3 linked regions of the Homo sapiens genome follow. The protein of the gene in region 1 interacts with the protein of each later gene in a biochemical or structural test. Each region holds a gene or a part of one and is shown in the gene's direction. Other genes may lie near its edges.

Region 1 (3,725 bases):
TGGCAGACCTGCTATGTGCTTCAGGGCATTGGCCCAGCTGCTGGGGGGCAAATGGAATCAGCTACATTATCCTTAGTCTTGCTCTCAAGAAAATCCTGCCTTTTGGGGCAGAGGAGGTGGGCAGATGGTTGGACAACTGGCTGCCCACCAAGGCAGAACGCCATTGGGCCTCAACAGAGCAGTGAGCAGAGTGCCAGCAGGTTTGACCTCTCCCTGGAGAGGCTTGTCAGCTGAGCACCGTGAGAGAGCAGGATTTGGGTAGGCAGAGAACCAGAGAAGGGAATTCCAGGCTGAGGGAATGGCTGGAGCAAACGCTTCGAGGTGGGAGGATGCCTTTTCTGTTGGGGGCCGGTGAGAGGCCTGTTGTGGTTGGACTACAGGATGCCACATCAGAGCTATGGTGGGGGTAGAGAAAGGACAAGTGGGGTGGAGGGTCCCCTCTCAGCCACACAGCAGCCTGGAGGAAGGGGAGAGGAGAGAAGAACTGATGGGCTGGGATCCCCAGCTCTCCCTGTCCCCCAGGCGCCTGGGGACTGGCACCCTGTCTAAAACTGTAACATCCTCTTCATTGACAGTGTTTTCATTTCTTGCTTAGCAGTGATCAGCACTGACATGCTGTCCATTTACTCATCACCCCCACCATTTACACACAGGTGCACTTGAGTGCCAGCTCTGCCAGGGAAGGATTTGTGTCCCTTTCTTCCCTGCTGTATTCCCCGTGCCTCAAACAGTGCCTGGCACAGAGCAGGTGAATCTTTGTTGGGTAAACAAATGTTCTTCTTTTCCTTCTTCTTTTCATTGTTTTGGTTTGGTTTGCTTTTTTGGCATCAGTTTGGTGAAAAATGAATTTTTTTTTTTTTTTGGCATCTGCCTAAGGCTCAGGGAGAGACCACCCTGAACAGGTGCTTCCTCTTTCGAGGAGTTTACAGCTTAGTGATGGTGTCACAGTCAGCAGAGGAACTTCTGTGAATTTTTAAAAGTTTTGTAGTACAAAATTTTGAGGCTGCAGGAAAGTTCAAAGAAAACAAAACAAAAACAAACCCCTATAATCACAGTGCTCAGAAGGGACCTCTGTTAGCATTTTGGAAAGTTTCCGAAAACACAAAATTGAAATGTGGAAATCTGCTTTCCCCTGAAGTATTGTGTATGCTTAGAAAATAGTAGTAATTGGCCAGGTGCGGTGGCTCACACCTGTAATCCCAGCACTTTGGGAGGCCCTGGTGGGCGGATCACCTGAGGTCAGGAGTTCAAGACCAGCCTGGCCAACAGGGCAAAACCCCATCTCTACTAAAATACAAAAATTAGCCAGGCGTGGTGGTGCGTGCCTGCAATGCCAGCTACTTGGGAGGCTGAGGCATGAGAATCGCTTGAACCCAGGAGGCGGAGGTTGCAGTGAGCCGAGATCACACCATTCCACTCCAGTCTGGACGACAGAGCGAGACTCCATCTCAAAAAAAAAAAAAGAAAAAAAAGAAAAAGAAAAAGAAAAGAAAAGAAAATAGTAGTAATCTCCGTATGCCATGCTGCTGCCTGGGGTTTGAGAATGTAGTCATCTGTCCCTCTGTGGGGCCAAGGGTGCTGGGCTGAATGTGGGGGCACGGGGATGGGGGGAATCTCAGGAAAAGGCTGGAACCTGGCACCTCAGCTGAATCCTGAAGAAGGAATTGGAGTCAGCCAGGCAAAAAAAGGGGTGGAGATGGGCCTGGGCAGGCTGCAGATGAGCCTAGGCCTGGAGGAAACACAGCAGGGACGGTGGGGACCTCTAGCAACTGGTGCTACTGGAGCTTAAAGTTCAAGGCAAGGGGCAAGGAGTGGCAGGAAATAATAGTGGAAGCACAGGCCGGTGAGGGACGGTCTCTTGTGCCTGGTTAAGGGCTTAGACTTTGCCCTGCAGCCAGCAGGGAGCTCTGAGGTGTGAATCAGGAGAGCCTCTGTTCCGGGAGGCTTACGCATGGCTAGGTTTATGTTCTATGTGATTGAACCCCCAGCTGCCCTCACTCTCCTTTGGGGTGGAGTAAAACAATTCACCTCTCTTTGCCCCTCCATTCTCCAGCCCATCTGGCTGTCCTGTCTCCCTCTCTTGTCTGGAATTGGTTCTGACACCTGCAAACTTCACCTTGGAAAGTTCAGTCCCCAAATCCAGACAGGGTGCTGATTCCAATCCCAGAGCTTTCTGGGCTGAGAGTGGGGTGGGGTGGGAGCTCTCAGTGGAGCTGTAAGAATGCAGCTTGAATCCAGGAGGTGGTGGTTGCAGTGAGCCAAGATTGCGCCACTGCACTCCAGCCTGGGTGACAGAGCTAGACCCCATCTCAAAAAAAAGAATGCAGCAGGGCCCTGAATGGGCACCATAAACAGGGGCACGCCCCAGACCACTTCTCAGTTCCTGCCCAACCTCTGACTTGCCTCTGTGAGTGCACAGTTGTGAGAACTGGGTTATCGATGTTTTATTATTATTGATAAATATAATTAATGTAATTGACCCACCCGTCTGGGGCACTAAATACTTTACAAAGTACTTTCAAGAGCATTTCCTCATTCACTCTTCACTACAGTTTCCGGAATGGACAGAGCAGACATTTTACACCCAGGAAACTGAGGCAGAGAGGTAGTGTGACTTCCTGAAGGTCGCCCAAGGGGCTAAAGCTCAAGAAGAGGCCACTTCTAACAGGCACTTCCCCTTTCAAGGAGTTTACGGCTTAGTGATGGTGTCACAGTGAGCAGAAGAACTTACGTGATTTTTAAAATGCTTTGTTGTACAAAATTTTGAGGCTGCAGAAAAGTTTAAAGAAAATAAAGCGAAAACAAATAAACCCCTATAATCGCACTGCCCAGAGGGGACCTCTGTTACCATTTTGGAAGGTTTCTGAAAACACAAAATTCCTCCTTTCTCCTCCCGCAGGTGGACGACCCACCGGAGCCCGTGTACGCGAACATAGAGAGGCAGCCCCGGGCCACTTCACCGGGCGCCGCTGCAGCCCCCCTTCCCAGCCCGGTGTGGGAGACGCACACGGACGCGGGCACCGGGCGCCCCTACTACTACAACCCAGACACGGGAGTTACCACCTGGGAGTCGCCCTTTGAGGCTGCCGAGGGTGCCGCCAGCCCAGCCACCTCCCCTGCCTCGGTGGACAGCCACGTGAGCCTTGAGACCGAGTGGGGCCAGTACTGGGATGAGGAGAGCCGCAGGGTGTTCTTCTACAACCCGCTGACGGGCGAGACGGCCTGGGAGGACGAGGCCGAGAACGAGCCCGAGGAGGAGTTGGAGATGCAGCCGGGCCTGAGCCCTGGCAGCCCAGGGGACCCGCGGGTGAGGGGCAGGGCCAGAGTGGGCGGTTCTACCTCTGAGCGCCTCTGATCCCGCCTCCTGCTCCCAGAGGCCCAGGGACACACGGGTGAGGGGGTGGTGATGGGTGGGCGGGGCTACCTCTGAGAGCCTTTGACCCCTTCTCCTGCTCCCACAGACCCAGGGACCCCAGGGTGAAGGGCGGGGCTGGAGTGGGCGGGGCTACCTCTGAGCGCCTTTGACCCCACCTCCTGCTCCCACAGACCTAAGGACCAGAGGGTGAGGGGTGGGGCAGGATGGGTGGGGCTACCTCTAAGCGCTTCTGACCCCGCCTCCTGTTTCTGCAGACCCAGGGACCAGAAGGTGAGGGGCAGGGCTGGAGTGGGCGGGGCTACCTCTGACGCCTTCTGCTCCCACAGCCCCAGGGACCAGAGGGTGAGGT
Region 2 (3,500 bases), on another chromosome or scaffold:
ATTACACTAGCATAAGTAGACTTTGGAATGGAAGCCAGCTTTTCTGATTCTTAGTCTAGTTTTGGATATGAACAATCTAGTAAAGGAGGGTTGTTTTTGAGTCTCTTAAGTGTGATTTAAGAAAATAATCTGTTTGGTTTGAGAGCTTAACCACATTCATTCAATTTCTTTGTTCCTGTTTTTAAGAACCGACTTTCCTTTAACTGTCATCTCCCTCATGCCCTTGCTTCTCTTCTTTACATTTAAATAAGCTCTGGAACAATCTGTTAAAACATAAGTCAGAAAATCAGAGTAGGTACCTAAAAGTTAAGTAGGGCTGGTCTTAAAATGTGGCATTCTTCTCCTAGTTGGAAAGCTTTGCTTTTCTTTTTATAGATATCATTTAATTTTAAAATTTTTACTGTAAATTGACAGATTATAGTTGTATATGAAAGCATTGCTTTTCAATTGTAAATTAATTCTAAAGACTCCAGAATTTGTGTTGGGTCTTTTCCCATTTAGCATTGTTAAACCTCCCATTTTCACAAATAACTTCGTACAACCGATATTAGCATATGCTTTACTGAATTTGATAAGGGTTTTATGGTCTATTTACATATTAAGCATCTTGTTAAAGAAGATGTCTTAGATCATGCAGTTTGTGCCCAATAACATGAATTTTACTCATAAAATTCCCAGCTGGCTGGGTGCAGTGGCTCACACCTGTAATTCCAGGACTTTGGGAGGCCGAGGCAGGTGGATCATGAGGTCAGGAGTTTGAGACCAGCCTGGCCAACATAGTGAAACTCTGTCTCTACTAAAAATACAAAAATTAGCTGGGTGTGGTGGCATGCACCTGTAGTCCCAGCTACTCAGGAGGCTGAGGTGGGAGAATCGCTTGATCCCAGGAGGCAGAGGTTGCAGTGAGCCGAGACCATGCCATTGCACTCCAGCCTGGATGACGCAGTGAGACTCTGTCTCAAAAAAAAACTTCCCAGCAAATAATCTGCCAGCTTTTTCTTGGACACTTTGAGTACTTTGAGGGAACCGTTATTTCTCTCAAATGGGCTTGTTTATAACAAGGCTCATCTTTTCTAGGACTCTGAAAGGAAGAAAGGTCATGGATCTAGGATATTTTATTTCTAGATGAAAAGGAAATGGTCTATGAAGAAGTAGTTTCTTAGGAATCAGATTGAATGTTGAGGTAGACCACTGTCTGAAAAGTTTCAAACTTGAACAGGTTCATTTTGTGTAGCTAGAGGACTCTGCTCCTGTGACACCTCTAAACCTTCTCTGGCTCTTTATCCAGGCTGCTGGGGTAGAGCAGAAATCTCAGAACACATCCTTTGTCTTTTTCCAGGAATCATTTAGCTCATGCAAGGACTGGTTGGCAAGATTGGTTATATAAGGATGATGGATGGACTAGGGGACGATTAAGTCTTAGCAAGGAAACACTGCCTTAGCTTAAGAGTTGTCCTGTCCCATTTTAACTCTCTCCTTGCACACTAACAGTGTTGTATTTTTTTGTTTTTAGGTTTTTGACAACTATGCAGTCACAGTTATGATTGGTGGAGAACCATATACTCTTGGACTTTTTGATACTGCAGGTGAAAACTTAATGTCTTTTATACTGTTTTGATCTTTAACAGTTGCTAGTTGTCTGTCTCTTGTGGACATTTTGAGAAACTAGCACATGAGCAAAGTACTTGCCTTTTGTTATTAGTTAGCAGGATTGAATATAATGATTGTCGATGCTTGACCAAGGAGCAGTCCCAGACCTGGGTCGGCAAATAGGAGTTTGGAGTACCCTGGGTGAACAGTGTAGTAGATGAAGTAGAGTGAGACTAGAGTGCATCATACAAGCTCCAAATTGAACTAAAATCCTGATGCGTGCACCTTGCAGAGAACTGGGGACTGCATTAGTGGTTGGGGAGGGACTAAGGGAATGAATTCATAGGAATCATGCCCACTGATTCTCTCCCTTCACCCCTACCTGCTCCTTTTTAAAGCCTAGAGTTTCCTAAATATGCCTAAGGTTATAAGGTCATAAGCCATTTACAGTATTTATTATTATTACTCTCTTGATATTTGAAGGCATATTCAATTTATGTGTCTAATAACATGTTTAGTTTCTTACGATAGATAGCTTATTTTAAACTGTATCTGAAAATATTTTGAGAGTGAACTATTATCTGCTCACAGTATTGACATTTGTCAGCTATCCAAATTGTAAGAACAAATTACTTTCTTCCTTAAATGTACCTAATTCCTCAGTGCTATTTCTTGTTTTCAAGAGTGGCTGCACATCTTAATTTCTGACTTTTCTCTATGTGCCGTCTTATTATCAGCTCAGTTAGCCAGAGGAAAATCTCAGAAAGATATCCTTTAGAGTATCTTTAGAATGTAGGAATTCTAAACTTTGTGCTTTGAGTTACTGTTACTGTTTGCAAGTTAACATGTTGCTTCCATGGAATGTGGTGTTACACTGTGTACCACGAGGAACTATTTGGATTTAATTGAGAACGTGAAATGGAGAGACAGTAAAGATTAGAGAAATTTTTAATACATTAAAATCATAAAAGTAATGGTATATTAAATTTGGAATATAGAGAAAACAATGACCCATAATGTCATGATAAATGAGGGGTTTTCTTCTGTGTTCATTTGTGTCCAAAGGCACAGAGAAAATTTTTATTTTTTTTTTTTGTTGAGATGGAGTTTTGCTGTTGTTGCCCAGGCTGGAGTGCAATGGTGCAATCTCGGCTCACCGCAACCTCCGCCTCCCAGGTTCAAGCGATTCTTCTGCCTCAGCCTTCTGAGTAGCTGGGATTACAGGCATGCGCCACCATACCCGGCTAATTTTTTTGTATTTTAGTAGAGGTAGGGTTTCTCCATGTTGGTCAGGCTGGTCTCGAACTTCTGACCTCAGGTGATCCGCCCGCCTTGGCCTCCCAAAGTGCTGGGATTACAGGTGTGAACCACTGCGCCTGGCGAGAAAAGATAATTTATGGCTACTTGTGGTTGAAAATTAGTATTTTCAGATTTCAAAGTTTATTATTTATAAGCCTTTACATTTTCTGGCGAGTACTTTTGAAAGCTTTTTTGATGCGTAGTGCAATAAAAATCATTTTAAGGCCAGGCGCGGTGGCTCACGCCTGTAATTGCAGCACTTTGGGAGGCTGAGACAGGCAGTTCACCTGAGGTCAGGAGTTTGAGACCAGCCTGGCCAGTATGGTGAAACCCCATCTCTACTAAAAATACAAAAATTAGCCCAGTGTAGTGGTGTATGCCTGTTAAGTCCCAGCTACTTGGGAGGCTGAGACAGGAAAATTGCTTGAACCCAGGGGGCGGAGGTTGCAGTGAGCCGAGATTCTGCCACTGCCCTCCAGCCTGGCTGACAGAGTGAGACTCCGTCTTTAAAAAAAAAAAAATCGTTTTAAGTGTTCAGTGTGATGCATTTTGCTGACCCTCCACCATAATAAAATGTGTAACATTTTTATCACCCCTCAAATTTTCTGTGG
Region 3 (3,725 bases), on another chromosome or scaffold:
CCTGGCTAATTTTTGTATTCTTAGTTGAGACAGGTTTCACCATCTTGGCCAGGCTGGTCTGGAACTCCTGACCTCAGGTGATCCACCTGCCTCGGCCTCCCAAAGTGATGGGATTACAGGCGTCAGCCACCATGCCCGGCCTGATTTTGAAAAAGAATAGGGACTGTGTGCAGTTACATATAAATTCTTATTTTTGAACTCTTGTGTGTTCAGCTGGCTTGTATCAACTACACCAGGGTTAGCCTTGATTCTGGAAGGGTGGATTCAGACTTCAGCTCAGTTGTACATAGTGTCTTCAGCCTAAGTGAGAAACTTTATGCACTATCTTAATTTTTTGAAGCTTCTAGTGGTAATAATTGCTGGCTTTTTTTTTTTTTTTTTGGTAGAAACAGAGTCTTGCTCTGTCGCCAGGCTGGAGTGCAGTGGCACGAAATCAGCTCACTGCAACCTCTGCCTCCCAGGTTCAAGCAATTCTCCTGCCTCAGCCTCCTGAGTAGCTGAGATTACAGGCGTGTGCCACCACACCCAGCTAATTTCTTTTGTATTTTAGTAGAGACGGGGTTTCACTGTGCTGCCCAGGCTGGTCTTGAACTCCTAAGGTCAGACAGTCCGCCCACCTTGCCCTCCTAAAGTGCTAGGATTACAGGCATGAGCCACCGTGCCTGGCTTATGGCTAGCTTTCTTTACATTGATTGTGAAGTCAGATATTGGTAGTAGAACATCATAATTTTAGATTGGGTTTTGTGTTTATTTAGCACTGCACTACTCTAGTGGTGTATTTTTCTGGACAGATTTTATCTGCATAGTTAACGCAGTTATATATAAGGCCTACCGTTACAGAATCCCCATACCTTGTTTGTCAGTGTAAATCGAGGACCTTCATGCGAGGTCTTTAATTTATTCAATAAGTAGGAATATATATTTGACAGTTACTAAATTCTACTGCCTTGTCCTTAAGATCTACATACTTTTTTTTGTTTTTTGAGTCAGAGAGTCTCGCTCTGTTGCTCAGGCTGGAGTGCAGTGATGCGATCTCAGCTCACTGCAACCTCTACCCCGTGGCCTCAAGCGATACTTCTGCCTCAGCCTCCTGAGTAGCTGGGATTACAGGCGCCTGCCACCACACTCAGCTAATTTTTTGTATTTTTAATAGAGATGCAGTTTCGCTGTGTTGGTCAGTCTGGTCTCGAACTCCTGGCCTGAAGTGATCCACCCGCCTTGGCCTCTTGCTGGGATTACAGGGAAGAGCCACTGCGCCTGGCCAAGATCTACTCACTTTTAGACAGCAATATATGCTCTGTATTTTGGTTTGCAATTGTAATTGTCATTGGAAGAGTTTGGCTTTTCTGTCCTGAGATCAACGTGTCTTTAAAAGAAGGCAGTGCAGAAAGTTGTTATTTTTTGAGCTTCTTGGATCTTTTATTTTTTTAACGTGAGGAAATTCCTAGCGTTTCTAGATTTGTTGATTGTGCTTTTAAGTTTTGGTTTATAGATTTCAGGAAGTAACACTAAAGTTTACCCTACTCTCCTCAAAAAGTAAGTAAAAAGTTCTCTTGGCTGGGCGTGGTGGCTCACGCCTGTAACCCCAGCACTTTGGGAGGCCGATGGGGTGGATCTCCTGAGGTCAGGAATTCGAGACCAGTCTGGCCAACATGGCAAAACCCTGTCTCTACTGAAAATACAACAACAAAAAAAAATTAGCTGGATGTGGTGGTGCTTACGTGTAGTCCCAGCTACTTGGGAGGCTGAGGCAGGAGAATTGTTCGAACCCAGCAGGCAGAGGTTGTGGTAAGCCAGGATTGCACCATTGGGCTCCAGCCTGGAAGACAGAGCCAAGACTCCGTCTTAAAGTTCTCTTAATGGAAAAATGAAGAACATAATAGCAACATAAGTTATTTGCTTTCATTGTGGTTATTTCTACAGGACAGGGCAGGGGAAGCACAGATAGGTTAAAAAAAATTGTAGCATCATGAGCTAGGGGGAAATCCAATGTAGAAATGGCATGAACTTTCTTCCAGCCGACTCATGTTCGTTTCCTAGAGTGATGACATTGCTCGATGATTGAAAAGAGGTTGAACTGAGCAGTTAATTATATAAAGTTAGAAATTCCAAAGAAGTAGTAACTACCAGAAATTCTCCAGCAGTATCAGTCAAGACTTGTGGCCAAATACGGCTTCCATTCTTCATGAGGGAAAGGCCATGGAAAGGCTGTCACATTGCCCAGTGCAGATGTTGACTTGGTTTGTGGAAGCGCAGCGTGGACAAGGAATGAATATACACTAATAGGAGTGGAATAACCTTTTTCTTTTACCTATTTGAATAAATTAAGTAAAAGTTTTAATCAGAAGACTTAAAGAGGAGTCGATTTTATCTTTTGATTGCACTAAGCTTAAATATAAGGTTGCACTTTAAGAATTCTGTAGTTTAATAATCATATTCTTATAAGACATAGATTTGTAACAAATAGTGATTGGTAATAAAATTTCAGTCAGTATCAGATTATGCCAGTACCTTGAATTTCTTCCCGGTTGAGCCTTTCTCAGCTAAAGATGTCATTCAGGAAAGGAAGTTTAGAGGATTTTAGACACAGCTGGTTGCCTTTATATTAGTAGTTTTGTTCCTCATATACATAGAGACTTAGGACAGAATAGTAAAAGAAGTGATAATGACATTTTATCATAACAGTCAAAACCTTCATAGCAGCTTATCCTTGACACTGAGTGGCAACTATTGTTAAGGTTTTTACACAACCTTTATCTTTTTTTTTTTTTTTTTTTTTTTTTTTTTTTTTTTGAGACGGAGTTTTGCTCTTGTTGCCCAGGCTGGAGTGCAATGGCGCAATCTCGGCTCACTGCAACTTCCGCCTCCCGGGTTCAAGCGACTCTCCTGCTTCAGCCTCCCGAGTAGCTGGGATTACAGGCATGCACGCCCGGCTAATTTTGTATTTTTAGTAGAGAGGGGTTTCTCCATGTTGGTCAGGCTCTTCTCGAATTCCTGACCTCAGGTGATCCGCCCGCCTTGGCCTCCCAAAGTGCTGGGATTACATGTGTGAGCCACCGAGCCCAGCCAACCTTTATCATTTTTAAAAAGGTCCCTTAGAGCCTTAGGCTCCACTTTCTTCCTCAGCTGCCACATCCAAACCATGGGTAAGCGATGCTTGATCTGCCTCCAAGTTCAAGCAGTCCAGGAAACAGCCCACTTATGTTCACTGTCCAGTCCCCATTCTTGGTCCAGGCCACCATGGATGGCTCCTGGACTGTAGCAACAGCTTCCATGTGTGTCTGCCTTGACTGAGTCCCTGGCGTCCTCAGGCTTCCTGCCACACTGCAGTTGGAGGCTTCTTCTAAAATCCAGTGCTTTCTGGGCAATTTAAAACCTGTGACTTTCCAAGTAGGATCTAGTCCCCATGTCCTTAACAAGAAGAGGTAACGTATTTCCCTATGCCACTGCCCACTTATTTTTTTATTGTTGAGATGGGATCGTGCTTTGTCACCTAGGCTGGGTGGAGTGGTGTGATCACAGCTCACTGCTGCCCTGAATTCCTGGGCTGAAGGGATCCTCTTGCTTCAGCCTCCTGAGTAGCTGGGACTACAGGCAAGAGCCACCACTTATTTTTGAATTTTTTGTGGAAACAAGGTCTCCCTATGTTGCCCAGGCTGGTCTTGAACTCCTGGGCTCAGCGATCCTCCCACCTCAGGCCCCTGTGCTGGGATTATAGCCTCCTG

What was found.
Region 2: of the proteins of ARHGAP27 (region 1) and CDC42, one has a biochemical effect on the other in vitro, tested with the Homo sapiens proteins (one study listed by BioGRID).
Region 3: of the proteins of ARHGAP27 (region 1) and RAC1, one has a biochemical effect on the other in vitro, tested with the Homo sapiens proteins (one study listed by BioGRID).

Annotation. Positions count from the first base shown.
Region 1 is NC_000017.11:45,405,258-45,408,982, reverse strand, and holds part of ARHGAP27 (rho GTPase-activating protein 27), read left to right. Parts: exon of another isoform or gene 1-748; intron 749-2,899; coding exon 2,900-3,307; exon of another isoform or gene 3,308-3,392; intron 3,393-3,630; exon of another isoform or gene 3,631-3,718; intron 3,719-3,725. UniProt on the Homo sapiens protein: Rho GTPase-activating protein which may be involved in clathrin-mediated endocytosis. GTPase activators for the Rho-type GTPases act by converting them to an inactive GDP-bound state. Has activity toward CDC42 and RAC1.
Region 2 is NC_000001.11:22,080,209-22,083,708, forward strand, and holds part of CDC42 (cell division control protein 42 homolog isoform 1 precursor), read left to right. Parts: intron 1-1,513; coding exon 1,514-1,586; intron 1,587-3,500. UniProt on the Homo sapiens protein: Plasma membrane-associated small GTPase which cycles between an active GTP-bound and an inactive GDP-bound state. In active state binds to a variety of effector proteins to regulate cellular responses. Involved in epithelial cell polarization processes.
Region 3 is NC_000007.14:6,381,027-6,384,751, forward strand, and holds part of RAC1 (ras-related C3 botulinum toxin substrate 1), read left to right. Parts: intron 1-3,725. UniProt on the Homo sapiens protein: Plasma membrane-associated small GTPase which cycles between active GTP-bound and inactive GDP-bound states.